Linked DNA regions of Homo sapiens. The protein of the gene in region 2 purifies or fractionates together with the protein of the main gene of each other region. This does not show direct contact. Each region holds a gene or a part of one and is shown on either strand. Other genes may lie near its edges.

The links.
Region 1: the proteins of SPN (region 2) and SAAL1 purify together in Homo sapiens (affinity purification with mass spectrometry; 2 studies listed by BioGRID and IntAct, with this or other methods). This does not show direct contact.
Region 3: the proteins of SPN (region 2) and SLC39A11 purify together in Homo sapiens (affinity purification with mass spectrometry; 3 studies listed by BioGRID and IntAct, with this or other methods). This does not show direct contact.
Region 4: the proteins of SPN (region 2) and EIF2B3 purify together in Homo sapiens (affinity purification with mass spectrometry; 3 studies listed by BioGRID and IntAct, with this or other methods). This does not show direct contact.

The regions. Positions count from the first base shown.
Region 1 is NC_000011.10:18,082,072-18,089,096, forward strand, and holds part of SAAL1 (protein SAAL1), read right to left. Parts: intron 5,155-7,025; coding exon 5,072-5,154; intron 4,984-5,071; coding exon 4,795-4,983; intron 1,661-4,794; coding exon 1,464-1,660; intron 1-1,463. UniProt on the Homo sapiens protein: Plays a role in promoting the proliferation of synovial fibroblasts in response to pro-inflammatory stimuli.
Region 2 is NC_000016.10:29,658,810-29,666,270, forward strand, and holds the start of SPN (leukosialin precursor), read left to right. Parts: upstream 1-4,437; 5' UTR 4,438-4,507; intron 4,508-4,885; 5' UTR 4,886-4,919; coding exon 4,920-6,122; 3' UTR 6,123-7,461. UniProt on the Homo sapiens protein: Predominant cell surface sialoprotein of leukocytes which regulates multiple T-cell functions, including T-cell activation, proliferation, differentiation, trafficking and migration.
Region 3 is NC_000017.11:73,082,676-73,089,700, reverse strand, and holds part of SLC39A11 (zinc transporter ZIP11), read left to right. Parts: intron 1-925; 5' UTR 926-936; coding exon 937-1,044; intron 1,045-4,854; coding exon 4,855-4,893; intron 4,894-7,025. UniProt on the Homo sapiens protein: Zinc importer that regulates cytosolic zinc concentrations either via zinc influx from the extracellular compartment or efflux from intracellular organelles such as Golgi apparatus. May transport copper ions as well.
Region 4 is NC_000001.11:44,850,571-44,857,595, reverse strand, and holds part of EIF2B3 (translation initiation factor eIF2B subunit gamma), read left to right. Parts: intron 1-6,592; coding exon 6,593-6,645; 3' UTR 6,646-7,025. UniProt on the Homo sapiens protein: Acts as a component of the translation initiation factor 2B (eIF2B) complex, which catalyzes the exchange of GDP for GTP on the eukaryotic initiation factor 2 (eIF2) complex gamma subunit.

The DNA.
Region 1 (7,025 bases), on a different chromosome or scaffold from region 2:
ATGACATAAGAATTTGCATGACATAGCACTCGTGTATTCTCAGCCCACCTTTCTTTGATGTTCCCACCACTTAAAAGTTAAGAAATATCGATGTCCCTTGCTCCAAAAAACAGAAACAACAGCAAAGAATGGGAAAAAAATACATGCGATAAATATGGAAAAGATACATTATTACCCAAGAAATTCATACAAATAATCAAAATGGATAAATTATTAAAAGGTAGGAAACAAATTAACATACGACATCCAAATATTTCAATCTCATTAATTTAAAAATGCAAATCAAAGTAAGACACAATTTATTACCTGAACTTTGACATAAAAATTATAATACCCAATAATAAGCGTCAAGTAAAACCAACATTTTCACATATAAATAGCATTTTGACAAAATATGGCCATCATGACTTAGCCATCTTCACATTTATAATGTTGAATCCAGTAATTTAAATTATATAAAACCTGCTAAGGTAATAACCCCAAATCTGGAAAATACAAATATGGAAAAGGGAAGCAAGACAACTAATAAAAAAAAAATCACCAGAATAAGAGAAACTTTTTGTTTCATTTTGTTTTTTGAGATAGGGTCTCACTCTGTCGCTCAGGTTGGAGTGTAGTGGCACAGTCTGGGCTCACTGCAGCCTCGACCTCCTGGGCTCAAGCAATCCTTCCATCTTTGCCTCCCAAGTAGCTAGGATCACAGGCGTGTGCCACCATGCCCAGCTAATTTTTGTATTTTTTGTAGAGATGAGGTTTTGCCATGTTGCCCAAACTGGTCTCAAACTCCTGGGCTCAAGTGATCCACCTGCCTCAGCCTCCCAAGTGCTGGGATTATAGGCGCCTGGCCAAGAGAAACTTCTTAAGGAATACTCTTTAAAAAATTAAGTGGGTATGAATAAATATATTCTTCACAGCTATATTTATAACATTTTATATTCATAATACAATATATTCATAACATATTCATAATACATTTCTTTCCAAATATATGGATAGAAAAAACATGGTCAAAAGAAGAATATTAATAACCATTGAACATATTCAGGGAGAATGTTCCTTAAAAGAAGTTTGCAGTAAATTTTGAAAACTGATTATTTGGTAAATTAGGTTTAAACTGGCTCTCAGTAAAAAAGTCTTTCATCTAGAATCAAGAAAAATGTTTATAATACAGTGTTAAGGGAAAACAGTAGTCTATAAAAATTGCATATGCTGGGTTAAAGTATATGAAAAATGCATTTATAAAAACACATGCATGCAAACATAGGCATATGTCTGTCACACGTAAATATACCAAACCACATCAGCTAGTTGTTTTTAAGATTATAAACTCATGGTGATATTAAGATTTTACTTTATTTTCCCAAATTATATATTACTTTCATATTTAAAAAAAAATAAAGTTTGAAGCGTTAAGCAACCCACACTTTCTTTTGCTTATGACATCATCAATACTTCTTTCCTACCTTTGTTAATGCCTGAAAAATATTAGAAAGAAATTCACATAAAATATCCTTTAAGATTTTCAAGTGGAAATCATCTTGGGTTAAATCAGTCCTTTTAGTTTCCTCTGTGTTAGACTCTGCCGAGTTCTCTGGTTTTTTCTGACACTGTTCCATATTTTGTAAGACCCGAATGAGGCTGTCAATTAGAGGAAGATCTACTGTATAAACAAATCAAGAAGCATGGAATTGGCCAGTTAAGTTTGGTTTTTCATTCATATGTATTGAATTAGTGCTAGACATTATTATTTTGGGTATTACAGATACACTGGTAACATCAGCAAGATGTCAGCCCATAAGAGGCTTACATTTTTATACTTTCAAATAAGTAAATAAAACAGACTATTTCAGGTTTTGGTTAAGTTCTATGAAGGAAATAAAAGAGGAATATAATATAGCAGCCTAGCAGGGCTAGCTCTCTGACAAGGTAACATTGAGTTGAGAACTAAAGCAATGAAGCATCAGCAATTAAAATACCCTAGGAGGTCAGGGGTGGTAGCTCACGCTTGTAATCTGAGCAGTTTGAGAGGCCAAGATGGGCGGGTAGCTTGAGCCCAGGAGTTCGAGACCAGCCTGAGCAATATGGTGAAACCGTGTCTTTACAAAAAGTACAAAAAAATTAGCTCACAGGATTTTTCTACCACTACCACTGTTACCATCTTGGTCCAAGTTATAACATTTCTTGCTATGAGTCAATTATGAAGAATCTCTAAAAGCCTCCTAACTCATGTCCCTTTTGTACCCATGACTCCCCATATTTCTCATCAAAACAGCAGCCTATTAAAGCCAGCTCATGCGTAGGCAACTTCTGCTTAAAACCCACCATGGTTCCCCACCTCATTCAGAGGAAAAGGCAACATCAGGCCCTCCATACTCTACCTCTCTGGCTCCATGTGCTACTTTGCTAAATCCACCCCAGCCATATGGGATCTCACTGTTCCTCCTCAAAGACACCAGGCATACTTCTGGTTGAAGGCTTTTACACTTTCCATTCCCTCTGTCTGGAATGTTCTTCTCCCCAAGTATGCACATGACTCCCTCCATTCTGTCCCTAAGGACTGTACTCAATGCCACCTTCTCAATGAGGTAACGTATCTACAAATGAAGATCTTAAAAATATTCAACATTCCTTTTTTATTAAAAACTCTTAATAAAATAGAAACAGATTAATATTTCCTTAAATGGTAAGACATATATCTGTTTTTGGAGGGGGGGTGCGGAGTATTGCTCTGCTGCCCAGGCTGGAGTACAATGGCGTGATTTCAGCTCACTGCAGCCTCTGCCTCCCAGGTTCGAGCAACTCTCCTGCCTCAGCCTTCTGAGTAACTGAGATTACAGGCATGCGTCACCAAGCCTGGCTAATTTTTGTATTTTTAGCAGAGACAGGGTTTCACCATGTTAGCCAGACTGACTTTGAACTCCTGACCTCAGGTAATCTGCCCGCCTCAGCCTCCCAAAGTGCTGGGATTATAGGTGTGAGCCACAGCACCTGGCTGTAAAACATATATCTTATACCCAATAATGCTTAACAATGGAACTCTAGGATTATTCCTACTAAAATCAGGAAGAAGGTAAGGATGTTTTCTACCATCACTATTATTTTACACCAGAGACTCTAGGCAACCCAGAAAGACAAGAAGAATAAACCAGAGATAGACAAGTGATAAAATATATCTAACTTAAGCCAAAGCACTATCAGATAAAGCCCAAAGATTATTACTGGAACGACTACTAAAAATATTAAGAATTTGGTAAGGTTACAGGATACAAAGTTAATATACCAAAATCAATAGCCTTCATATATTCCAACAATAATAATCAGTGGAAGAAAATATGTCACAGACAATAGTAAACCCAAAAGATACAATTATCTAGGAATGAAACTAATAAGAAATATCCAAGATCCATATGAAGAAACCATTACTGAGGGACACAAAAAAGACCTGAACAAATAAAAGGGCATAACATATCCTATCAAGTTAACACGATGTCAACAAAAATGTCAGAAATTTTTTGTTTTTGGAACTCAAAGTTAGTGATAAAAATAGTTAAAAACATTCTGAAAACTTAGAATGAAGAGGAATTTGCCTTATTAGGTATTAAAACATAAAACCTTAATATTTAAAAACACTATGGCTACTAATATATGAATACAGCAATGGAACTGAACAGAATATATAGGGGAATTTTAAAAATAATGATGAAATTTCAAATCAGTGTGGGTAAGCTGGATTATTCACTAAATGATGTTGAGATAACTGGGTAGCCCTCTGGGAAAAAACTGATACCACTAGAACCAAAGTTATCAAAGGGGGAAAAAAAATTAAAGCCACACTTCACATGTGACACGAGAATAAATTCTAAATGAATCATGAATTTAATTGTGGTCATAAAAACAATTCTGTGAAAGAATATGTGTTTATATAGGAAAATATTCATTTTATATTTCTAAATGAAATGTTGGCTAAAAAGCAGAATTAAATATATGTGCATGTGTGGGATGGTAAGATTACAAACATCATGTTTCCTTGATATTTTTTATAAATTTTTCGGCAGGGTGCAGTGGCTCATGCCTGTAATCCCAGCACTCTGGAAGGCAAGGCAGGAAGGTCATTTGAGCCCAGGAGTTTGTGACAAGCCTGGGCAAGATTGTGAGACCCTGTCTCTATAAATATTTAAAAACTAGCCAGGTGTGGCGTCATGTGCCTGTAGTCCCAGCTACTCAGGAGGCTGAGGTGAGACAATCACCTGAGCCCAGGAATTCAAGGTTGCAGTGAGCTATGATCCTGCCACTGCACTACAGCCTGGGCAACAAAATAAGACTCTGGCTTTAAAATAAGTAAACAGGCCAGGTGGGGTGGCTCACGCCTGTAATCCCAGCACTTTGGGAGGCCGAGGTGGGTGGATCACCTGAGGTCGGGAGTTCGAGCCCAGCCTGGCCAACACGGTAAAAACCCGTCTCTACTGAAAAAATACAAAAATTAGCTGGGCATAGTGGTGTGCGCCTGTAATCCCAGGTACTTGGGAGGCTGAGGCACGAGAATCACTTGAACCCAGGAGGCAGAGGTTACACTGAGCCAAGATTGTACCACTGCACTCCAGCCTGTGCAACACAGCAAGACTCTGTTTCCAAAAAATAAAAATCAATAAAAAATAAAATAAATAAATATGATAATAAAATAAATTTTTGAAGTTTAGCATGTAATGTTTTTATAATTAGGGAAATGAAAGCATTTTTTAAAAGGGAGAAATAAATGAAATGAAAAACAGTATGAGCCTGGGAAACTGTACTTGCCTTTTTCTATCTTTAGATACTCTTGCTCAGTCTGTGAGGCATAGATGGCAGACAACACTGAAAAAACAGAGGCTAGCACTGTTTTCTGTTCTTGAAGAATGATGGGTGGATCATCAGACTGGCAGAATTCATGGCAGACCAGGTCAAAAAGTAAATTCCAAATGTCTTTTCCAGTGTCAGGACAATGTACTTAATAAAGAGGACAAATAAAGCAGTACTTTAAAATCAGCAAACAATTAAATGAGTAACTGTAGTGCATCCCGATAAACCACCTTACCAATTGCTTGAATTCCATCATCCACTGTAGTAAGCAGTTGTAAAATGTGCATGTAAACATCAAGCCATTCTGGATTTTCAGAACTAAATAGGAAAAGTAAAAGCACTGAATCAACAACTTTACTGTCCAGGGGATTCCAATCATTCCTCCATTCAATAAATATTTATTACTCTGCCAGCCACTGTTCAAGGTGCTGAGGATAAAACAAGGAAAGGAACGAAGTCTCTGTGTTCGTTAGAGCTTTTATATTCTAATAGGGGAAACAGCAAAAAATAAACAAATATTATATAATATAATCAACACACACAGGACAAGAAGTAAAAAAACTTTTTGGCTCTATCTCATAAAAGCAACAACGCAGAAACCTACCAGTTGATACTTTATCATTTTGGTTTGCTTGAATAATCAGAACAAAAAAAGACTGCGATTTTTATAGTATGAACGTTAAGGTCCGCTGCATCACGCATCAACAATAATGATGTTCTGAAAATGTCTCAGGATTAACCTAGCTCCCTAGCTGAGAACACTAAAACCATGTAAGTCTAATTCTTATGATCAACCGTTTGGATTCTCAAAAATCTAAATAGTTTGGAAACTCAAAATCTTAGTTCTTCAACCAAACAAGTGAAAAGACAGTGAACAATTAAAACAATGGTTTGGCAAATGTTTATTTAAGTACTTACAAATTTCAGGCACTATGTTAGGAGTTGAGAAAACAGATGTATAAGATGTTATCCCTACCTTCATAAACTTTATACTCTAAAAGGAAAGAAGATTCCAAGTGGGGTAATTACAATAAAGTGGTACTAATGTAGCACTATGGGCTAGGAACTTCACAAAGCAAGGAGACTTAGTTTGCAGGGTCAGGGAAGGTATCTTAAGAAAAATGATGTTTACACAGAAACATGAAGGGGCAAAGAAGTGTCTGAGGTGGAGGAAACATACTGTGCAAGGGCCTGGAGACAAGACAGCCTGGTTCAGTTGAAGAAGTGACGCAAACTTCACATGACTGAAACGCAGAGTACAAGGAATAAGGATAGCGCTACTGGGTCCATAAGCTGTACTTTATTTTTTTGAGAATTTTTCATTTATTTCATTCTTTTTTCCCCTATTTTATTTATTTATATTTTGGATTCAGAAGGTACATGTTGGGGGTTGTTACATGCATGATGCTGAGGTTTGGGAATATGGATGGTCCCATCACCCAGGTGATGTATGTAGTACCCAAGCTGTGTTTGTTTGTTTGTTTTTCTGGACCTTATCCTAAGGAAGGCAACTGAAAAGACCGAAGCATGAGAGTGAAATGAGTGCGTACTTTGCAAAAACAGCTTTAAAGTCTAGGCTTGGGAAGAGCAAGCATAGAGGCAGGGAATTCAAGTAAAAGAATGTGGCAGTTCTCCAGATGAGAAACAATAATGGCTTGATTGGCATGGATGGAATCCCAGAAAATGTCAGGAATAAGGGTTGGGAGTTGACTGCAATGGGAAAATACTGGGGCAGGAAAGATTCAGTAATTGGCTTCTCCATTTCTTCTACATTATCCAAATAGGATAATGATTACATCATTTACTGAGATTGAGAATACTGATGAAGCAGGTTTAGGGAAAGATGATGAATTTATCCCTCACTTGGATAAAGGACACAAAATTAATAGGTTTTGATGTGGCTTACTCAGCACTAAGAATGCACTAAGAAAAACACTAAGCAGATCAATTTAAAAATTAATTTTCTAGTGATTAGCAATAAACAGTTTTAATGACCTGTAAGGCTTAGTAATCACTCTTGGCAAGACATCAGAGTCCCAACATCGGTCACTTATTGAAGACTGGCATATAAACACAAGGAGCAAAAAAAAGCAAATGATGTGCAACGTTAATGAAGTTGTTAAATGTTCAATGTAAAATAAAGCACAAGAAAATGTTTTCTCTTTGATTTAAATTACATAAAATATGGT
Region 2 (7,461 bases):
CTCGGGCTCCCGAAGTGCTGGGATTACAGGAGTGAGTCACCACGCCCAGCCTAAGTATTGCTCTTCTGTGATGATTTGCAGGCAACAATCACCTCTTGTTCATATTTTCATTATCTTTCCCTCCACCCCGAGCCTATAGTCTGTCTTGGTCAGACCCCATTTCTTGAGTGCACCAGGCTGGAGTTTGGACCCATCCACATCCTCGCAGCTCTCCTGAGTTGGGGCCCAACATCTGGCTTGGGGAACAGACAGCTTTGCCGACAGCAGTAACAATTTGGTTGAAATGATAACTTTGTCAAAAATGAATTTTGCCTTAGTGTTTTTTTAAAGGTTGAGAATCTTGTACATTCTTACAACATTTCTATTTTCTACAGTTAAAAAACTGTAGGCTGGGTGCAGTGACTCACTCCTGTAATCCCAGCACTTTGGGAGGCCAAGGTGGGTGGATTGCTTGAGTCCAAGGGTTCGAGACCAGCTAGGCAACATAGCAAAATATTAGCTAGGTGTGGTAGCTACTCGGGAGGTTGAGGCAGGAGAATTGCTTGAACCCAGGAGGCAGAGGTTGCAGTGAGCCAAGATCATGCCACTGCACTCCAGCCTGGGCAAGAGAGCTAGATTGTCTCAAAAAAAAAAAAAAGTAAGTTCCAATTACTTTGCAGCCAATTATTCTTGCTCTTCTATTTGCAATAGCAGAAGATTGAAATAGCCTCCTAGATGTCTGACAGTGGAATGGGTTCTTTTCTTTTTCTTTTTTGGTAGAGATGAGGGTCTCACTATGTGGCCAGGCAAGCCTTGAACTCCTGGCCTCAAGTGATCCTCCCGCCTCTGGAGGCAGGAGGTAGGGTACAGTCCCAGACTCAAAGCACTGGGATTACAGGAGTGAACCACTGCGTGAGCCTGGTTTCTTTTCTTTCCCCTCCCTCCCTTCCTTCCTTCCTTCCTTCCATCCGTCCTTCCTTCCTTCCCTCCTTCTCTCCTCTTTCACTCTACCTCTTTCTTTTCTTCTTTTTTCTGGCTTGTTAAAACAGAAATACATAATAATTATAGTGAAATAAACTAGGGTATTTACTGCAGCAGTTAGTAATAATGAAATGTTGGAAAACAATCTAATGTTCATCCGTAGGGAATATTTAAAATATAGTGTATTTCTGCCGGGCGCGGTGGCTCACGCCTGTAATCCCAGCACTTTGGGAGGCCGAGGCAGGTGGATCATGAGGTCAGGAGATCGAGACCACGGTGAAACCCTGTCTCTACTAAAAATACAAAAAAGTTAGCCGGGCTTCGTGGCGGGCGCCTGTAGTCCCAGCTACTCGGGAGGCTGAGGCAGGAGAATGGCTTGAACCCGGGAGGCGGAGCTTGCAGTGAGCAGAAATCGCGCCACTGCACTCCAGCCTGGGCGACACTGTGAGACTCCATCTCAAAAAAATAAATTAATTAAAAATAAATAAATAAATAAAATATAGTGTATTTCTGGCCGGGCGCGGTGGCTCACTCATGTAATCCCGGCACTTTGGGATGCTGAGGCTGGCAGATCACAAGATCAGGAGATCAAGACCATCCTGGCTAACGCGGTGAAACCCTGTCTCTATTAAAAATACAGAAATTAGCTGGGCATAGTGGCATGTGCCTGTAGTCCCAGCTACTTGTGAGGCTGAGACAGGAGAATCGCTTGAACCTGGGAGGTGGAGGTTGCAGTGAGCTGAGATCGAGACACTACGCTCCAGCCTGGGTGACAGAGCAAGACTCCGTCTCAAAAAAAAAAAAAATTATAGTGTATGCCATGGAATATTATGCAACTGTTATATATGTGTGTGTGTTCCCAAAGCATTGTTCAGTAACAAAGGAAAAGTGCAAAACACTAAAATGGATGAATACATGCTTGTGTAAACACAGACACTGTCAGGAATGTTTGTCTGGAGGTGATGGGTATGGAGCCTTTTTGTCTGATATATTGGGTGTATCAAGAATGCCAGGTCCTGAGCAGTTTTTTTTTTTTTTTTTTGAGTTGGAGTCTCACTCTGTTGCCCAGGCTGGAGTGCAGTGGCACAATCTCTGCTCACTGCAACCTCCACCTCCTGGGTTGAAGCGATTCTCGTGCCTCAGCCTCCCGAGTAGCTGGGATTGTAGGCGCCCGCCACCATGCCCAGCTAATTTTTTGTGTTTTTAGTAGAGACGGGGTTTCACCATGTTGGCCAAGCTGGTCTCGAACTCCTGACCTCAGGTGATCTGCCTGCCTCGGCCTTCCAAAGTGCTGGGCTTACAGGCATGGGCCACCGTGCCCAGCCGTTTATATGTATTAACTCTTAATCATCAAAACAAACTATGTGGTATTACCATAATTATCGCCATTTATACAAAGCAACAGAGGGATAAGGAGATTAAGGCACTTGCCCAAGTGCAAGAGGTAGGACAGGAACCCAGAGTCCCGTGCTGGTAGCTGCTTTTCTGTGCACTTAACATTATCTCATTTAATTCTTGCAGTCACTTCATGAAGAAGGTGGCGGTCCTAGGGCATTGGAGAAGTTATGTGCTTGTTCAAGGTCATGCAGCTGGAAGATGGTGGTGGTAGGACAGGAAGTCTGTAGGGCCTGATTCTGCAGCCCTCTAGTCTATACTCCTTTGCTCCTGTGTCCCTCATCCCCCCTGCAGAATGGGCACCCCGTTACCTTTCTGAGCCACTGTGCGCAGAAAAGAGAGCATGTTGGCCAGGCTGGTCTCGAACTCCTGACCTCAAGTGATCAGCCTGCCTTAGCCTCCCAAAGTCCTGGGATTACAGGCGTGAACCACCACGCTCAGCCTCTGAATACTTTGTACTCAAGCCATTTTTCAGTGCTGTGTTTGCAGTGAGCACACCCGAGGGATGAAGACACGTCTCCCTGTGGGAACCTGGGCTTACCAGGGCCCCTAGAGGAGGGGAATCTCTCAAGCTCAGAGCTCTATGGCTGCGGTGCAGGCCCACTGTGTGCATGGTGTCAGTCTGGGCCCTTCCATGTTGCCCCCGTGGGACTTGGGGTAAGGGGAACTGATGCAAACATCACGCTGCTGTTGCTTGGTGTGAGCAATTAATTCCTGTGGCTCTCACCCAGGAGTCTCATGTCTTTGGGTCAGACAAACTCATCAGCTTGTAGAAATGGCACAGTCCCACGGGCCTGTTAGAATCTTCTATTGTGCACATGTTGCTCTTAAAATATACAAATCAGTTTTGATTTTAAAAAATTATTTATTTTTTTAGTGATAGGAGTTTTGCTACGTTGCCCAGGCTGGTTTCAAACTCTTGGGCTCAGGAGGTCCTCCCACTTTGGCCTGGACTGCCAGCATAATGTATCACCACACCCGGGACTGATTTTCGTTTTTCAAGAACAAAAACCAAAAACATACACAAACCGAGAGTCAAAGCTTGCTAATTAGAGGAAAGTCAGGAAATGGGAACCATTCAAAGAAGAAAATACCCCCACCTCCTACTCTCACCTATCCAAAGACAATTAGGTGAATCCCTTAGTAGATATCTTTCCAGACGGTTTTCCATATAGATTCCCATATCTGGCCAGGCGCGGTGGCTCACACCTGTAATCCTAGCGCTTGGGGAGGCTGAGGCGGATGGACCACCTGAGGTCAGGAGTTCGAGACCAGCCTGACCAACATGGAGAAACCTCGTCTCTACGAAAAATACAAAATTAGCCGGGCACAGTGGTGCAAGCCTGTAATCCCAGCTACTCAGGAGGCCGAGGCAGGAGAATTGCTTGAACCTAGGAGGCAGACATTGTGCTGAGCCGAGCCAAGATCATGCCATTGCACTAAACTCCGCCTTAAAAAAAAAAAAAAAGATTCCCACATCTTTACTAGTTTGCAGAAATAAGATCCTAGCATATGCAGTGTGTAGGAACCACCTTGGTTTAGCCACGTCTCTGTGACTGGGGGCCACTGTGGTGACCCCCAGCTCCCCGGACAGAGTCAAGAGCTCACCAGCCTGCAAAGGTTTTCACGGCCCCCAGCCAGACTCGGGGGCTTCCTCTTGCCCTGCTACTTCCTGGGAGCTCTGAGGGCAGGAAATGGCGCCACTCAGCTCCTGGCCTAACAGCTTGGGGACCACAAATGCAAAGGAAACCACCCTCCCCTCCCACCTCCTCCTCTGCACCCTTGAGTTCTCAGGCTCACATTCCCACCACCCACCTCTGAGCCCAGCCCTCCCTAGCATCACCACTTCCATCCCATTCCTCAGCCAAGAGCCAGGAATCCTGATTCCAGATCCCACGCTTCCCTGCCTCCCTCAGGTGAGCCCCAGACCCCCAGGCACCCCGCTGGCCCCTGAAGGAGCAGGTGATGGTGCTGTCTTCGCCCAGCAGCTGTGGGAGCAGGCGGGTGGGGCAGGATGGAGGGGTGGGTGGGGTGGGTGGAGCCAGGGCCCACTTCCTTTCCCCTTGGGGCCCTGTCCTTCCCAGTCTTGCCCCAGCCTCGGGAGGTGGTGGAGTGACCTGGCCCCAGTGCTGCGTCCTTATCAGCCGAGCCGGTAAGAGGGTGAGACTTGGTGGGGTAGGGGCCTCAGTGGGCCTGGGAATGTGCCTGTGGCTTGAAAAGACTCTGACAGGTTATGATGGGAAGAGATTGGGAGCCATTGGGCTGCACAGGGTCAGGGAAGGCCAGGAGGGGCTGGTCACTGCTGGAATCTAAGCTGCTGAGGCTGGAGGGAGCCTCAGGATGGGGCTGATGGGGGAGCTGCCAGCATCTGTTCCTCTGTCATTTCTGATAACAGTAAAAGCCAGCATGGAAAAAACCGTTAAACCGCAGGTTGGGCCTGGCCGTTGGCAGGGAAGTGGGCAGAGGGGAGGCCCGGCCAGGTCCTCCGGCAACTCCCGCGTGTTCTGCTTCTCCGGCTGCCCACCTGCAGGTCCCAGCTCTTGCTCCTGCCTGTTTGCCTGGAAATGGCCACGCTTCTCCTTCTCCTTGGGGTGCTGGTGGTAAGCCCAGACGCTCTGGGGAGCACAACAGCAGTGCAGACACCCACCTCCGGAGAGCCTTTGGTCTCTACTAGCGAGCCCCTGAGCTCAAAGATGTACACCACTTCAATAACAAGTGACCCTAAGGCCGACAGCACTGGGGACCAGACCTCAGCCCTACCTCCCTCAACTTCCATCAATGAGGGATCCCCTCTTTGGACTTCCATTGGTGCCAGCACTGGTTCCCCTTTACCTGAGCCAACAACCTACCAGGAAGTTTCCATCAAGATGTCATCAGTGCCCCAGGAAACCCCTCATGCAACCAGTCATCCTGCTGTTCCCATAACAGCAAACTCTCTAGGATCCCACACCGTGACAGGTGGAACCATAACAACGAACTCTCCAGAAACCTCCAGTAGGACCAGTGGAGCCCCTGTTACCACGGCAGCTAGCTCTCTGGAGACCTCCAGAGGCACCTCTGGACCCCCTCTTACCATGGCAACTGTCTCTCTGGAGACTTCCAAAGGCACCTCTGGACCCCCTGTTACCATGGCAACTGACTCTCTGGAGACCTCCACTGGGACCACTGGACCCCCTGTTACCATGACAACTGGCTCTCTGGAGCCCTCCAGCGGGGCCAGTGGACCCCAGGTCTCTAGCGTAAAACTATCTACAATGATGTCTCCAACGACCTCCACCAACGCAAGCACTGTGCCCTTCCGGAACCCAGATGAGAACTCACGAGGCATGCTGCCAGTGGCTGTGCTTGTGGCCCTGCTGGCGGTCATAGTCCTCGTGGCTCTGCTCCTGCTGTGGCGCCGGCGGCAGAAGCGGCGGACTGGGGCCCTCGTGCTGAGCAGAGGCGGCAAGCGTAACGGGGTGGTGGACGCCTGGGCTGGGCCAGCCCAGGTCCCTGAGGAGGGGGCCGTGACAGTGACCGTGGGAGGGTCCGGGGGCGACAAGGGCTCTGGGTTCCCCGATGGGGAGGGGTCTAGCCGTCGGCCCACGCTCACCACTTTCTTTGGCAGACGGAAGTCTCGCCAGGGCTCCCTGGCGATGGAGGAGCTGAAGTCTGGGTCAGGCCCCAGCCTCAAAGGGGAGGAGGAGCCACTGGTGGCCAGTGAGGATGGGGCTGTGGACGCCCCAGCTCCTGATGAGCCCGAAGGGGGAGACGGGGCTGCCCCTTAAGTGTCGGTGAATAGTGAGGCTGGAGGCCGGAATCTCAGCCAGCCTCCAGCACCTTCCCTCTCACCATCCCACTGCCCCCTCGCTCCCATGTTTCCACCCGGCACCCTGATCCTCACCCGAATCTCCTTTTTTTTTTTCTTTTGAGACAGAGTTTCGCTTTGTCGCCCAGGCTGGAGTGCAATGCACGATCTCAGTTCACTGCAACCTCTGCCTCCTAAGTTCAGGCGATTCTCCTGCCTCAGCTTCCCGAGTAACTGAGATTACAGGCACCCACCACCATGCCCAGCTGCTTTTTTGTATTTTTGGTAGAGATGGGGTTTCACCATGTTGGCTAGGCTGGTCTCAAACTCCTGACCTCAGGTGATCTACCTGCCTCAGCCTCCCAAAGTGCTGAGATTACAGACATGAGCCTCCGCGCCTTGCCTCCTCACCCACCTCTTCACTCTGAATCCTCATGAGGCTTCTCAGCCCTGGATTTCCTGCTGCCATCCTCACCCAGCACCCACAACTAGCGCCTGGGCAGGGCAGGGCTGGCACCTCTCAACGTCTGTGGACTGAATGAATAAACCCTCCTCATCCACCCCTATTTATCTCCATCACCATTTCCCCCTCTTTCTTGTTCCTGGAAACGGCTGCTGAGTCTCCATCGGCCAAACTTATCTGCCCTGTGATTTCTTTGACAATTCTCCTTTTCCCCCAGAACCCACCCTGGGTTGACCAGAGTCTGGGAAGAAGGACAAGAGAACCCGGCAAACTCCCTCCTAGGATTAACTTTGTAAAGCACCCTTGCCCTGTAGCTGCAAGGGCTGTGGAACCTGGGCAGCCCGCAACCACCTTTAGCTCTGGGCCCCCCAGGCCAGCCTGGAGCATGGCTGGGTGGGGCCACCAGCCCATGCTCTCAGGCGGGCCTGTGATCTTTCCCAGGGCACATGGACTGTAGGCTGGCCCTGGCCCACACCACCACACTCTCCCCAGCCATGGACAGAGGCAGCCAGAGGCCTCACGGTTTCTCCTCCGAGTTTCTGGCTGGGTGTAGTTCTCAGAAACCCCAGTGCCTGCGTGTGTCCACTCGTGGGTGTGGTTTGTGTGCAAGAGCTGAGGATTTGGCGATGCTTGGGAGGGGTAGTTGTGGGTACAGACGGTGTGGGGGTGGGAAGTGGTGCAGAGACTGAAGAGGGTCAACCTGGGCATGGGGGACACAGGGACTGCTGAGAACGTGCGTGTCATCTTTGCTCTGATGGGGTGGACATAGCAGAAAATCTAACTCTGTCTGTAGCCCCATACAGAATGCCAGGGTGAGCACAGTGGCTGGTGCCTTTAATCCCAGCACTTTGGAAAG
Region 3 (7,025 bases), on a different chromosome or scaffold from region 2:
TTTCCATCCAGCACATATTTTTCAGGGGTTACAAAGCCCTATTTTACAGGGGTGCCAAATGTGAAAAAGCACCGTCCCCGTCCTCAAGCAACTAAGGCTGTAAAAGATGGAGGCAAAGCCACACTGAGAGAGGACCAAAGCTGCATGCTAGGACAGGGCTGGGGAAGGCCAGAAAAGCCTTGGTCGTGAGGTTGGCATTATGTGGGCTGCAGAGGGTGCTCCGGGTTCTGATGGCTGGAAATGTGCAAGGAAGGTATTCCAGGAGGGAACTGCATGAACAGGGACTTGGAGGCAGGATTGTCTGGGGCTTGTGGAAGGTGCCATAAATAATTCAGTTGAGCTGGAGTTGGGTGCTCGTGCAGGCATGATGGAGAACGGGATTGGAGAGTCGGGGGTTGGTGGGTATCAAAAGTTGGTTGGTGGAGTTTACCCTTTGGCTGGGCAGGTGCGCTGTTGCAGATGTGATGGGGATTAAGATTGGAAGCGTGTTGACATCACCTGAGCTAGTCACCTGTCTTTGGTGGAGGCTGAGTGCGGATGGTGGGCAAGAGACGGTAGAAGAGGCAGATTATGTGGGGGAGGCTGCATCAGACCCTCCTATGCCCCCTTCTTCTGGAATAAACCACATTCTTTGTGCTTCTCTTTGAAACCACTTTTCAATGTTGCAGCCTTTTTTGTGGATTCCCCTGGCATCTCCCTGTGCCTTCTTTCAGATTAAGACGATTTCCAGTTCCTGGGGGACCTGGATAGAGAAGCCTGACCTGTGTGCTGGGTGGCTGAGGGACACAGATGGCGTGGTGGAAGGGTGCATACGGTCAACCTGGAGGGAGGCCAGCTCCCACACAGGGTGTTAGGACCCGTCAGAATATGCGCCTGTCACTGAAACGGACCACCGGTGGCTGACCCTCTCGCTCCTCTTGCACAGCTGTATCCAGCATGCTCCAAGGCCACAGCTCTGTGTTCCAGGCCTTGCTGGGGACCTTCTTCACCTGGGGGATGACAGCAGCTGGGGCAGCTCTCGTGTTCGTATTCTCTAGTGGACAGGTGAGTTGCCTTGCTTTGGTTCTGGATGTTGGTGGGGAGCCCGTTGGTAAAGGGGCACTGTCCCACTCCATGGAGCAGGTTTGTAGACTTTTCAGTGCCCCTGGCCACACCCCCAGGCATTGTGTACTGGGGTTTGTTCGCTGTCTTCTTATTTTCTCACCTTCTCCCTGCCAGGCCGGGAGAACAGATGTCTGCTTGCTGTAGACACCTTCATGCACCATCATCTCCCCTCTTGACCCTTGACAGCCTGACTTGAAGGGAATAGGAAGTGAGAAGCCCAGTTATTGAGGCTTCGTTAGCCCGCTGCCTAATTTCTACCTGCCATGTAATTTCTTTTCTTTTTTCTTTTTTCTTTTTTTTTTTGAGACAGAATCTTGCTCTGTTGCCCAGCCTGGCGTGCAGTGGCAGGATCTCAGCTCTCTGCAACCTCCACCTCCCGGGTTCAAGTGATTCTCCTGCCTCAGCCTCCAGAGTAGCTGGGATTACAGGCATGTGCCACCACGCCTGGCTAATTTTTGTATTTTTAGTAGAGGTGGGATTTCACCACTGGTCTCAAACTCCTGACCTCAGATGATCCACCCACCTCGGCCTCCCACAGTGCTGGGATTGCAGGTGTGAGCCACCGTGCCTGGCCTGCCATGTAATTTCTTTCAGGCCTGGAGCAAGTGGTACTATGCGTGACCGAAGAACATTAGATTTCAGGTGTAACTGTCCTCCCCTGTGGACTTGAGTTGGGTGGGATGGTTGGAAAGACCTTGGGAGAAGAAGGGGCATCTGTTCCCTTTTTTTTCAACCCATCTCCAGGTTGTTTCCTTTCCCCTTGGGATGAATATAGACAGACCCATGTCCCTGGCCCCCTGCAAACTCTTACTTCTTTCTCCTACATCTTCCTTGTATCCTACTCCCAGTGCCCTCACTCACTGTCATGGCCCCACAGCCTATCTCTCCCTCCTCCCACAACCCCATCCTTACACCCCTTCTACACGCTCTACCTATAGTCCCACATACCCACACTTGCACACATACCCATACCCATATGCCCTCCCCACACCTCTGCACAACCCACACTCACCTCATATACCTGAAATTGCATTCTTTTCTCCAACCCAGATCACCCTCAGTCCGCAGCCCTGGAGCCATCCATGGGTATCTTGATGAATGCACAATCCCTGCATCGATCACCTCGGTAGCCTGAGACATTGTAGAAACGGCAAATGAATAAGTGACTTAAGATCTAGTTCAACATGTTGTGAGGGAGATCTGGAAATGAAAACACCTTTAGGAAGTTCACAAGTCAGGCACTCTTGTGTTAGAGACCAGTACAGCAGGCCTTGATTTCAACAATAAAATCCCGACCTCCCTTGCTGCGCTGCACTGCCCCCGGGAGCTGATGGGTTGGAGACTGGAAATCAGAAAACACACAATCCAGAAACATGGTTTATCTGGAACCTAGGTATATAAGATGCCAAGATAAGTCAAATTCACAGAGACACATTGTAGAATGGTGATTGCCAGGGGCCACAGAGGAGGGCAGAAATAAGTTATTCTTGAATGAGTACAGAGTTTCAGGGTTTTTTGTTTTTGTTTGTTTTTTTTTTCTTTAGACAGAGTCTTGCTCTGTCACCCAGGCTGGAGTGCAGTGGCGTGATCTTGGTTCACTGCAACCTCTGCTTCCCAGGTTCAAAAGGTTCTTCTGCCTCAGCCTCCCGAGTAGCTGGGATTACATGCATACACCACCACGCTCAGCTAATTTTTTTTGTAGTTTTAGTAGAGACGGGGTTTCGCTGGTAACCCCATCCGGCCAGGCTGTTTTATTTATTTATTTTTTATTTTTTTTGAGCTAGAGTCTTGCCCTGTCACCCAGGCTGGGGTTCAGTGGCATGATCTCAGCTCACTGCAACCTCCACCTCCTGGGTTCAAGTGATCGTCCCACCTCAGCCTCCCAAGTAGCTGAGACTACGGGTGTGCACCACCATGCCCAGCTAATTTTTGTATTTGTAGTGGAGATGGGGTTTCACTATGTTGCTCAGGCAGGTTTTGAGCTCCTGACCTCAAGTGATCTGCCTGCCTCGGCCTCCCAGACTGCTGGGATTACAGGTGTGCACCATCATGCCCAGCTGAGTTTTAATTTTGTAAGGTGAAAAGTTCTGTAGACCACATGGCTTCTTTCACTTCAAAGAATGTCCATAGAGCTCATCCACGTTATAACATGTGCCAGAATTTCTTTTGTTTTTAAGGCTGAAGACTATTCCATTGTATGTACATACCACATTTTGTTTATCCATTCATCTATGGATAGATAGCAAAAAAAAAAAAATCTGTATTGAAATAGAAGATGCTTATGGAAAAATGCACATTTTATTAGGCTGGTGCATTTTATTAGGTTTGCACCAACCTAATATAAGTATGCAGCTTGATAACTTTCCACAAGTGCTCATGAAACTAGAGCCCAGATCAAGAAACAAAACAGTACCAGCTCCTCACCTCACAGCCCCTTCCAATCAGGAGCCTTCAGTCTCCCTTCCAATCTCACCATCCCCAACCTTTACTCCAAGGGTCATCTCCCATGTGATCTCTAACAGCACGGATATTTTCCCTGTTTCTGTGCTTTATTTAGATGGAGTAATCATATAGTACGTACTGTTCTGCATCTGGCTGATTTTACCCTACTTGTTTTCCAGTTTCTTTAATGTCCCTGTCTGTTTGTAAGATGTAACTGTAGTATGTGTGTGCGTTCCCATCGCCATTATGGTACCTGTTGTATGAGTGTATCCTAGTTAACATATCCATCCTACTGTTGGTGAGAGTTTGGGTAGTTTCTAGTTTTGGGCTCTTAGCACTGCCGAACATTTTTCTTCATGGGTTTGTTGAATACAAGTGCATTCCTGTCATGGGATTACTCAGGAGTGGCACACATAGTGTTCACCTCTCATCGGTGCTGCCAAATAGTTTGCCAAAATGGTGGTACCCGTTTGCACCGCCATTGTGTGAGGGTTTTTTTTTTTTTTTTTTTTGAGGCGGAGTTTTGCTCTTGTTGCCTAGGCTAGAGTGCAATGGCATGATCTTGGCTCACTGCAATGTCTGCCTCCCGAGTTCAAGGGATTCTCCTGTCTCAGCCAAGTAGCTGCGATTACAGGCATGCATTACCGTGCTTGACTAATTTTTGTATTTTTAGTAGAGATGGAGTTTCACCACGTTAGCCAGGCTGACCTCAGATTCCTGACCTCAGGTGATCCACCTGCCTTGGCCTCGCAAAGTGCTGGGATTATAGGCATGAACCCTTGCACCCAGCCTATTTTTTTTTGTATTTTTAGTAGAGATGGGGTTTCATCATGTTGGCTAGGCTGGTCTTGAACTCCTGACCTCAGGTGATCTGCCCGCCTCAGCCTCCCACAGTGCTGGGATTACACATGTGAGCACTGTGCCCGGCCTGTGTGAGGGTTTTGATTGTTCCACCTGCTCCTCTGCTCCTCACCAACGCTCAGTAATTCCCAACTTGTAGACAGGCTACTTACTAAAGGTTTACAGTTGTAATTCACAGGGAAAGCTGAGTAAGAGACAACACAAGGGCCAAGACAAGCCAAGCACCACTTGAAAGAACGCTTCTGATTGGCTATGGGGTGGGTGGAAAGTTAACCAAAGACTTTCCCCGTGGTTCTTGGCCCATGGTATAAACTGAGTAGCTCACGAGCTCAGGAGTCGGCCAGTCTTTATTTGCGTGGCTCTTTTGGGCCTTATGGTTTCTTCTTGTCCCAGGAAACATCATCTTATTGTCTCTTGGAAACTGAAACATCTTGTTTTGATTTTCAGAGGCGGATCTTAGATGGAAGTCTTGGCTTTGCTGCAGGGGTAAGTAGCATGTAGTAGGAGAAATGGAAATTGAGGCATACTGATTCTGACATGTGTCTGCCAAGGGCTGTCTTCAGTCCCTCCCCTTGCGACCTAGATGCATCTCTGTGTTCCTCAGGCACTAACACCTCCCTCTTATCACCTGCCATATTTATTTCCCAGCTTATCAAATGCCCATTTCTCTTTAGACAGCAATCGAGGTTTATTTGACAGCTGCCTCAGGACTAGGGAAATAAGATCTTATTTGGTAAGGGCCTAGCACAGGCCTAGCCTAATACATAGTTGGCTCTAACTAAATATACTTTTTCCTCCCCTTCTCCCTTAAAAGATCTTTTTTATAGGCCTTTTTTTTTTTTTTTTTTTTTTTTTTGAGACAGAGCCTTACCCTGTCACCCAGGCTAGAGTACAGTGGCACAGTCATGGTTCACTGCAGCTTCAACTTCTCTGGACTCAGGTGATCCTCCCAACTCAGCCTCCCAAGTAGCTGGGACTACAGGCATGTGCCAACGTGCCTGGCTGATTTTTGAGTTTTTGCAGAGATGGGGTTTCACCATGTTGCCCAGGCTGGTCTTGAACTCCTGGGCTCAAGTGATCCACCTGCCTAGGCCTCCAAAAGTGCTGGGATTACAGGCGTGAGTTATGGAACCCAGCATATTATAGACATTGTTAAACATGTAAAAATTGTGGATAGAAGCCTGTAATGCATCCCAGACACCCATCTCCCAACTTCAATCATTATTGACATTTTGCTAATCTCAGTTCACCTGTCCTCCCCAAAACTTCTTGGGAGGTTAGAATATTTTATAAAAGCTAATCCCAGATGACATGTAATTCCACCTGTAAATTCAACACACATGTCTAACTGAATGACTTTTTAAAAATAAACATAATCACATGGCCATTATACCTACCAAATTAATAATTCCTTTTTATGATCTAACATCCAGTCCATATTCAGATTTTCTTCATCTTTCTAAAGGTGTCATCTAATATTGTTTTGTTATAATTGGGGTCCAAACAAGGTTTCTATATTGCATTTGCTTGTTATATCTTTTAAGTCTCTTTAATTTTTTAACAGTTCATTTTTTTTTTCATGCTAGTAATTTGTTGGAGAAACTGGGTCATTTGTCTCTAGAATGTTGGCTGATTACTTCCTCGTGGTGCTGCCTAACTTGTTCCTCAGTCCCCTGTATTTCCTGTAAGCTGAGAGTTAGACCTGGAGTCTTGATTAGTTCAGATTCCATTTTTCAGGCATGAAGATGTCATGGTGCTGTGTATTGCAGATGTATTACCCATATCAAAAGGCGTGTAATATGTGGGTTTCCCTTTTAGTTGATCAGGGTTTGGTTTCTTTCTTCAGTTTTTATAGCCCTGCGATCTGGAAAAACTAGCCTGGAGGTGGAGCCTGCCAGAGGCCATCTGAGTCAGTAGCTGTTAGACTGGAGCCACTGTTCCGTCAAAAACACTGTCCTTTCTGAGCCATACACAGGTGCACAGAGAGTGTTGAGAAAATTAGTTTCTAGGTCCTCAGCTTCCATACGTTCTCTTCCCTATAACTGCTGTGCCTGAGAATGCCGGGGAAGCCAGCCCTACTTTCTTTCCTTCCTTGGCACAGCTTCCCTTTCCCACCTTACACAAGAAAGATGCTCTTGCCTTATAACCTTGTCTCTGGGTGGCATGGTCTTCAGGCAGACATGGAGGGCCCCTTGGAATGTTGGTGCTGGCACGGAGAAAGTGAAGGGCCTTGTCTCTAATCACTGGGCATAAGTCCATTTTTTTTTTTTTTTTTTTTGAAATGGAGTCTCCCTCTGTTGTCCAGGCTGGAGTGCAGTGGCTGGATCTTGGCTCACTGCAACCTCCGCCTCCCGAGTTCAAACAATTCCCCTGCTGCAGGCTCCCGAGTAACTGGGATTACAGGTGTGCACCACCACGCCTGGCTAATTTTTTTTTTGTGGTTTTAGTAGAGATGGGGTTTTGCCGTGTTGGCCAGGCTGGTCTCGAACTCCTGACCTCAGGTGGTCTACCCAACTCGGCCTTCCAAAGTGCTGGGATTACAGGTGTGAGCCACCATGCCCGGCCCACAATTCCTTTAGCAGTTCTGATGTGATCCTGTCCTTTGAAGGTGGATCTAA
Region 4 (7,025 bases), on a different chromosome or scaffold from region 2:
GAGAACATAAATTGATAAAGCCATCTTTGGAGAGCAGTTGACATCACTGTCAATTTTTTTTTTTTTTTCGGAGTTTCACTCTTGTTGCCCAGGCTGGTGTGCAATGGTGCAATCTCAGCTCACTGAAACCTCCGCCTCCCGGGTTCAAGCGATTCTTCTGCCTCAGTCTCCTGAGTCGCTGGAATTACAGGCATGTGCCACCACGCCCAGCTAATTTTTTGTATTTTTAGTAGAGATGGCGTTTCTCCATGTTGGTCAGGCTGGTTGCGAACTCCCGACCTCAGGAGAACTGCCCACCTCAGCCTCCCAAAGTGCTGGGATTACAGGCGTAAGCCACCGCACCTGGCATCACTGTCAAATTTTTTTACTTTGACTTAACAGTTTCATTTCTAGAAATTAATCTTATAGATAAGCTTATACATGTATGCACCCTTAATCTCAAAACCTTGAAAACATATCAATAGATCTAATGGCCCAGGTTGGCACCAATACTGTACAGTGATTCTTGAAGCCTAGGCACAGTGGTTCATGCCAATAATCCCAACACTTTGGGAGGCTGAAATGTGAGGATCGCTTGAGCCTAGACAACATAGCAGGAACCCATCTCTACAAAAAAATTAAAAATTAGCCAGGCACAGTGGCACACACGTGTTGTCCCAGCTACTCAAGAGGCTGAGGCAGGAGGATTGCTTGAGCCTGAGAGGTCAAGGCTGCAGTGAGCTGAGATCGCACCACTGCACTCTAGCCTGGGTGACAGAGGGAGACCCTGTCTTAAAAATAATAATAAAAATTAAAATGACTGATTGCTTTTGGTATTATTCCTAAACCTAAAATAAGGTGGGGAGGGGAGTTGCTGAAGGAATTAACCCCACCAACTCTGTAGACGCCACATCATTTCCTTCTTCAGTTTCTTCCCCCTTCCCTTTTTTAAAGTCATATGCCTTCCTTTTGGGCTTTAGAATCAAACAGACCTCAGTTCACATCTCAACTCAACTTAGTGGCTGTGCACCAAGTGAAATTTTTAATCATTAAGCCCTCAGATTTTCCTTTTTTTTTTTTTTTTTTTTAATTTTAATTTTTTGAGACAGAGTCTTGCTCTGTCGCCTAGGCTGGAGTACAGTAGTGCTATCTCAGCTCACTGCAGCCTCCTCCTCCTGGATCCAGGTGGTTCTTGTGCCTCAGCCTCCCGGGCAGCTGAGACTACAGGGGCACACCACCACCCTTGGCTAATTTTTGTGTTTTTAGTAGAGACAGGGTTTTGCAATGTCACCCAGGCTGGTCTTGAACTCCTGGCCTCAAGCAAGCCACCCACCTCACTTTCCCAAAGTGCTGAGATTACAGGTATGAGCCACTGCGCCCAGCCCCAGATTTTCTTAATTAGACAATTGGGACAATAATAGCTACCTTGGAGAATTGTGAGAATTACATATAATTAAATGACAGGTATATGCACTACTCCTTGAGTGTACCAAAAGACTTAGAATTCCTCATACATACCGTGCCATTATACCTCTCCATGCTTTTACATGTGCTCTCTCTAGATTTCCTCTCTTGAAGACTCCGACCAAGTGTTTTCTCCTTTGTAGAACCTTCTCTGCCTCTTCCCATGACTCCCCATAGCAGAACTACACATTCCTTCCACTGTGTCCTTGAGCTTTGCCACACCTTTATTAAAGTATGTTTCACAAGCCATGGCAATTATCCGTGAATCAGCCTTCCCTACTAAGATCCTCAAGGTCAGCTGGGCATGATGGCTCACACCTGTAATCCTAGCACTTTGGGAGGCCGAAGTGGGCGGATCACCTGAGGTCAGGAGTTCGAAACCAGCCTGACCAACATGGTGAAACCCCGTCTCTACTAAAAATACAAAAAATAGCCAAGTGTGGTAGTGCATGCCTGTAATCCCAGCTACCTGGGAGGTTGAGGCAGGAGAATTGCTGGAACCCAGGAGGCGGAGGCTGCAGTGAGCTGAGACTGCACCACTACACTCCAGTCTGGGTGACAGAGCAAGACTCCATCTCAAAAAAAAAAAAAAGATCCTCAAGGTCGATTGTCTCATAACTATATGCATCCCTAGCTCTCAGAACAGGTCCTGATTTATGGTAAATGCTCAGAAGGGGAAAAGAGTGAATGAATGAATGTTGGATCCATGAAACATATTTTGGGGGATTTCAGGGTATAAAGTTAGGGTTCCAAGAAAGGCCTCTGTGCGATGGTTGCAATCATCATGAGATGGGCTTCATAAACTCCTGGGCTTTCTGGCTTTAATTAACACTATGTGTCCACCTTTTAGCAAGGAGACCCTTTAATGGTCCTGCTGAAGGAGGGCTGGCCAGGGAAGTCATCTTGTCTGGGCTCTAAACTGGACAACCCCACCACTTCCTTCTCTCTGTCCTCTGCTGGAAGGACCAGTGCATCCAGCACAGTGGTCAGTGCCCTCCTGCCACAGGAACTCCCTGGCCAGTTGCCTTTTTCCACTATTACTTCTTCTTTTTTTTTTTTTTTTGAGACTGAGCCGTATGGTGAAAGCAAACTCCTAACCATCAGTGCAGCACTCAAGACTTGTTACTATAGGTGACCTAGGCAAACACCAACAACTCACATCCTTACCAGCAAAGAGCTCAATAGATGGCAAAGTCTTCCGTCAGTCTTCCTCACATGAAGGGGTTTCAGGAAAAAACATTCATCCTAAGAAATAATGCAGTCTCAGCCGGATGCGGTGGCTCATGCCTGTAATCCCAGCACTTTGGGAGGCTGAGGCGGGTGGATCCCTGTGGTCAAGAGTTCGAGACCAGCCTGACCAACATGGAGAAACCCCATCTCTACTAAAAATACAAAAAATTAGCCGGGCGTGGTAGTGCATGCCTGTAATCCCAGCTACTTGGAAGGCTGAGGCAGAAGAATTGCCTGAACCTGGAAGGCAGAGGTTGTGGTGAGCTGAGATCACGCCATCACACTCCATCTTGGGCAACAAGAGCGAAACTCCATCTCAAAAAAAAAAAAAAAGACATAATGCAGTCTCCTCTCCAAATTCTAATCATTTTCATGCTCCAGAGTCACCACATCCATAGCAGTCTTTTTCCCCAAAAGTATGGCTCGTAACTCAGTGTAGGCCTCCCTACCCTCTTCTAGCACCAACACGAAAACAAGCCATTTTATAACAACTCTGACTTTTCTCACCCCATCCCAATACTCTCATTGGTTATCTCTGGCAAAAATACTGGCAGCCAAATTTGACCTTCTCAAGCAGTAGAATGGCTACAGCTAACAGTCAAAACCTAAAAAATGGCTGGGTACAGAGGCTGTAGCTCACGCCTGTAATCCCAGCACTTTGGGAGACCAAGGCGAGTGGATCACTTGAGGTCAAGAGTTCGAGACCAGCCCAGCCAACATGGTGAAACCTCATCTCTACTAAAAATACAAAAATTAGCTGTGTGTGATGGCACACACCTGTAATCCCAGCTACTTGGGAGGCTGAGGCAGGAGAATCACTTGAACCTGGGAGGCGGAGGTTGCAGTGAGCAGAGATCATACCACTGCACTCCAGCCTGGGCAACAGAGCAAGACTCCATTCAGAAAAAAAAAAAACAAAAAAAAAAAACACTAACTGCTAAAAGCATGCTTCATCTGAGTCTCTTCTTACAGTCAGTGACAGAACTTGGATCTCTTCCCTATGGCCAGAGTGATCAGTTCTTTGACCATGAAAGTAGACCTGGTATAGGTCAGGCTGTTGATGTATACTTGACACAGGTCAAATCCTCCTGGCCAGCAGGAAGCTTTCCCAGTTTCCCAACAGTGCACCTTTTATTTGTGATGTTTTTCCCTTCTATCCCATTGCTATTTTCCCAACTTATCATCCTCCCTTGTATTTTTCCCCTTGGGATCTTTCCCAACCTGATTCCAGCCCAAAGATTTTCCAGTGTATTTACTGGACCCTACTCCCATCCCTGACCAAGCATCACTAGCTTTGCTTAGTTTTTTGTTTTTTTGAGACAGGGTCTTACTCTGTCACCCAGGCTGAAGTGTAGGTGGCACAGTCACAGCTCACTGTAGCCTTGACCTCCCGGGCTCAAGCGACCTCCCTCCCTGGCCCCTGAGTAGCTGAGACCACAGGCATATGCCACCACATCCAGCTAATATTTTTATTTTTTGTAGAGATGGTGTCTAACTATTGCCCAGGCTGGTCTCAAACTCCTGGGCTGGGGCAATCCACCCACCTTGGCCTCCCGAAGTGCTGGATTGCAGGAGCGAGCCACCACGCCCGGCCTAGTTCTGCTTGTTGTGCCTCTACAGGTTTCCTCCAACTTACTGAATCACCATGAAAATACATCAACCCCAACATGCCAGATATAGTCTCTGTTCCCTGGCTCCCCCTGCCCCTTCCAGGCTATTGGCTCACTGCCTCCTTTCTATAGTTCTTTTTCCTTGAAAGTTTTCTATAGCTCTTCTTACCTTTCACCGCATCATTGATCAGCTTCCAGGGTACTTCCCTACATTTATTAAGAGCTTTAGCCTGTGGTTCACAGTCTTCCTCTCCTCTCCCTCACTTGTCCATAACATCTTGGACAACTTAAACATATTCATCAGTAAACTGTCCAGCTCTCCGGCTTCATGATTCCCTGAACTTCTCTACCAACCTTCATCTGCATTCAGCTTTAGCTCTCCAGTTATATGACCATATCCTATCTTAGTCATTACCCAAAACCTCTAAAATCATCATGTGGCAGTAGCTATGCTAGACACTGGGGATATAATCATAACTACACTGTTCCATCTCTCCTCTCAATGTTCTTGGTTTGTTTTTTTTTTTTTTTTTGAGACAGAGTTTCACTCTTGTTGCCCAGGCTGGAGTGTAATGCTGCGATCTCGGCTCACTGCAACCTCCACCTCTTGGGTTCAAGCAATTCTGCTGCCTCAGCCTCCCGAGTAGCTGGGATTACAGGCATGCGCCACCATGCCTGGCTAATTTTGTATTTTTAGTAGAGATGGGGTTCCATCATGTTGGCCAGGCTGGTCTTGAACTCCCGACCTCAGGTGATCCACCTGCTTTGGCCTCCCAAACTGCTGGGATTAGAGGCATGAGCCACCGCGCCCAGCGCCCTCAATGTTCTTATAGTGAAGTAGAGGAGAGTGGTATAATGATGTAGGAATAGAGATATATATTAGGTACAGTGGTTTCACAAAGCAGGAAATGGACAGTGCAAAAGGGAAGGCATCGCATATTAGAGGTGCTACGTTAGGGCACATAGGGTAGTAAGAGTGCAACAGGAAAAAATGGAGGGGGAAGCATTCTAGGCAGAGGGTTGTGCCAAAGTTCAAAGGTATAAAACAGGGCCAAGTGCGGTGGCTCACGCCTGTAATCCAGCACTTTGGGAGGCCAAGGCAGGGCAGATCACTTGAGCCCAGGAGTTCCAGACCAGCCTGGCCAACATGGTGAAACCCCATCTCTACTAAAAATACAAAAAAAAAAAAAAAAAAAATTAGCCATGTGTGGCGTCATATGCCTGTAGTCCCAGCTACTGGGGAGGCTGAGGCGGGAGAATCACTTGAACCCAGGAGGCGGAGGTTGCAGTGAGCCAAGATTGCGCCACTGCACTCCAGCCTGGGTGACAAAGCAAGACTCCATCTCAAAAAAAAAAAAAGGGATTAAAACAGTATGGCTTACTGGCAAAATGGAGAATAGTGGGAAATGAAGCTGGAGAGGTAGGCAAAGATGTCATGGAGGGCCTTATGGGTTTGACCTTTATAGAAATAATAATAGCCACAACTTATTGAGCATTCACTTACCTTTAACTCATTGAATTCTCACAACAACCCTATGCAGTAGGTGTCATTATTTCCATATTATATATGAGGTATTGCCCTTTCTTATCTCCGTTTATCCTTTTAGCCTCATTTCTTACCCTTATCCCCTCATTTCCTATTCTCTGGCCACACCACAGTATTTCATGGTCCCCTTTCTCCCATCTCACTGTCTTTGCCCTTGCTGTTCTAACAGCCTAGAATCCCTTCCATCACTGCCTGTAGAAACTATTCACCCTTTAAGACCCAGTTTCAGTTCTCCTATTTAAAGCCTCACCACAGCCAGGTATATAGACAGTTGGTCCCATCCTCCTGCATAGGAAGGTGCTCTCTCTCTCATATCCCTATTTCCAAGAGCTTCTCAAGATCACAGCCACAATAGTAGAGAAATAAATTTTTGTGAACACAGAATTAGAAGCAGTTGGGTTTGGCTGGGCGTGGTGGCTCATACCTGTAATCCCAGCACTTTGGGAGGCTGAGGCTGGCAGATCACCTGAGGTTAGGAGTTCGAGACCAGCCTGGCCAACACGGTGAAACCCCATCTCTACTAAAAATACAAAAGTTAGCCAGGCGTGGTGGCGGGCGCCTGTAATCCCAGCTACTCAGGAGGCTGAGGCAGGAGAATCGCATGAACCTGGGAGATGGAGGTTGCAGTAAGCCGAGATTGTGCCACTGCACTCCAGCCTGGGTGACAAGAGCGAAACTCGGTCTCCAAAAAAAAAAAGCAGTTGGGTTTGAAATGTCATCTTGCTGCCAGTTCTCAGAAAACTTTTTTCCTTTTCTTTTGTAGCTAAACGAGTGAATGAGGTGATCGTGGGGAATGACCAGCTCATGGAGATCTGAGTTCTGAGCAAGTCAGACTCCTTCCTTTTGGCCTCCAAAGCCACAGATGTTGGCCGGCCCACCTGTTTAACTCTGTATTTATTTCCCAATAAAGAAGGGCTTCCAAAGGCATGCTGGAGACTTGTGGAGCAGTCCAAAGCTCCATGTCAGGTGGGCTCCAGGTGTACACAGTGTATGTTCATGTGTCATGTGGTAAAGATCATCTGGAGCAAGTGTGTGGGACAGGACAGATACAGTGGCCTAACTCTTGTGTGCCAAGATGTATCGGTGGGGCAGCAGCTGTCCAATGTAAAGCTCCTAGGAAGGCTACTTTCTGACTGGCTGACCCAACCCAGTCCTGAAAGTATCCCTCACCTAAAAGGACCTGGGAGTACTTCAGT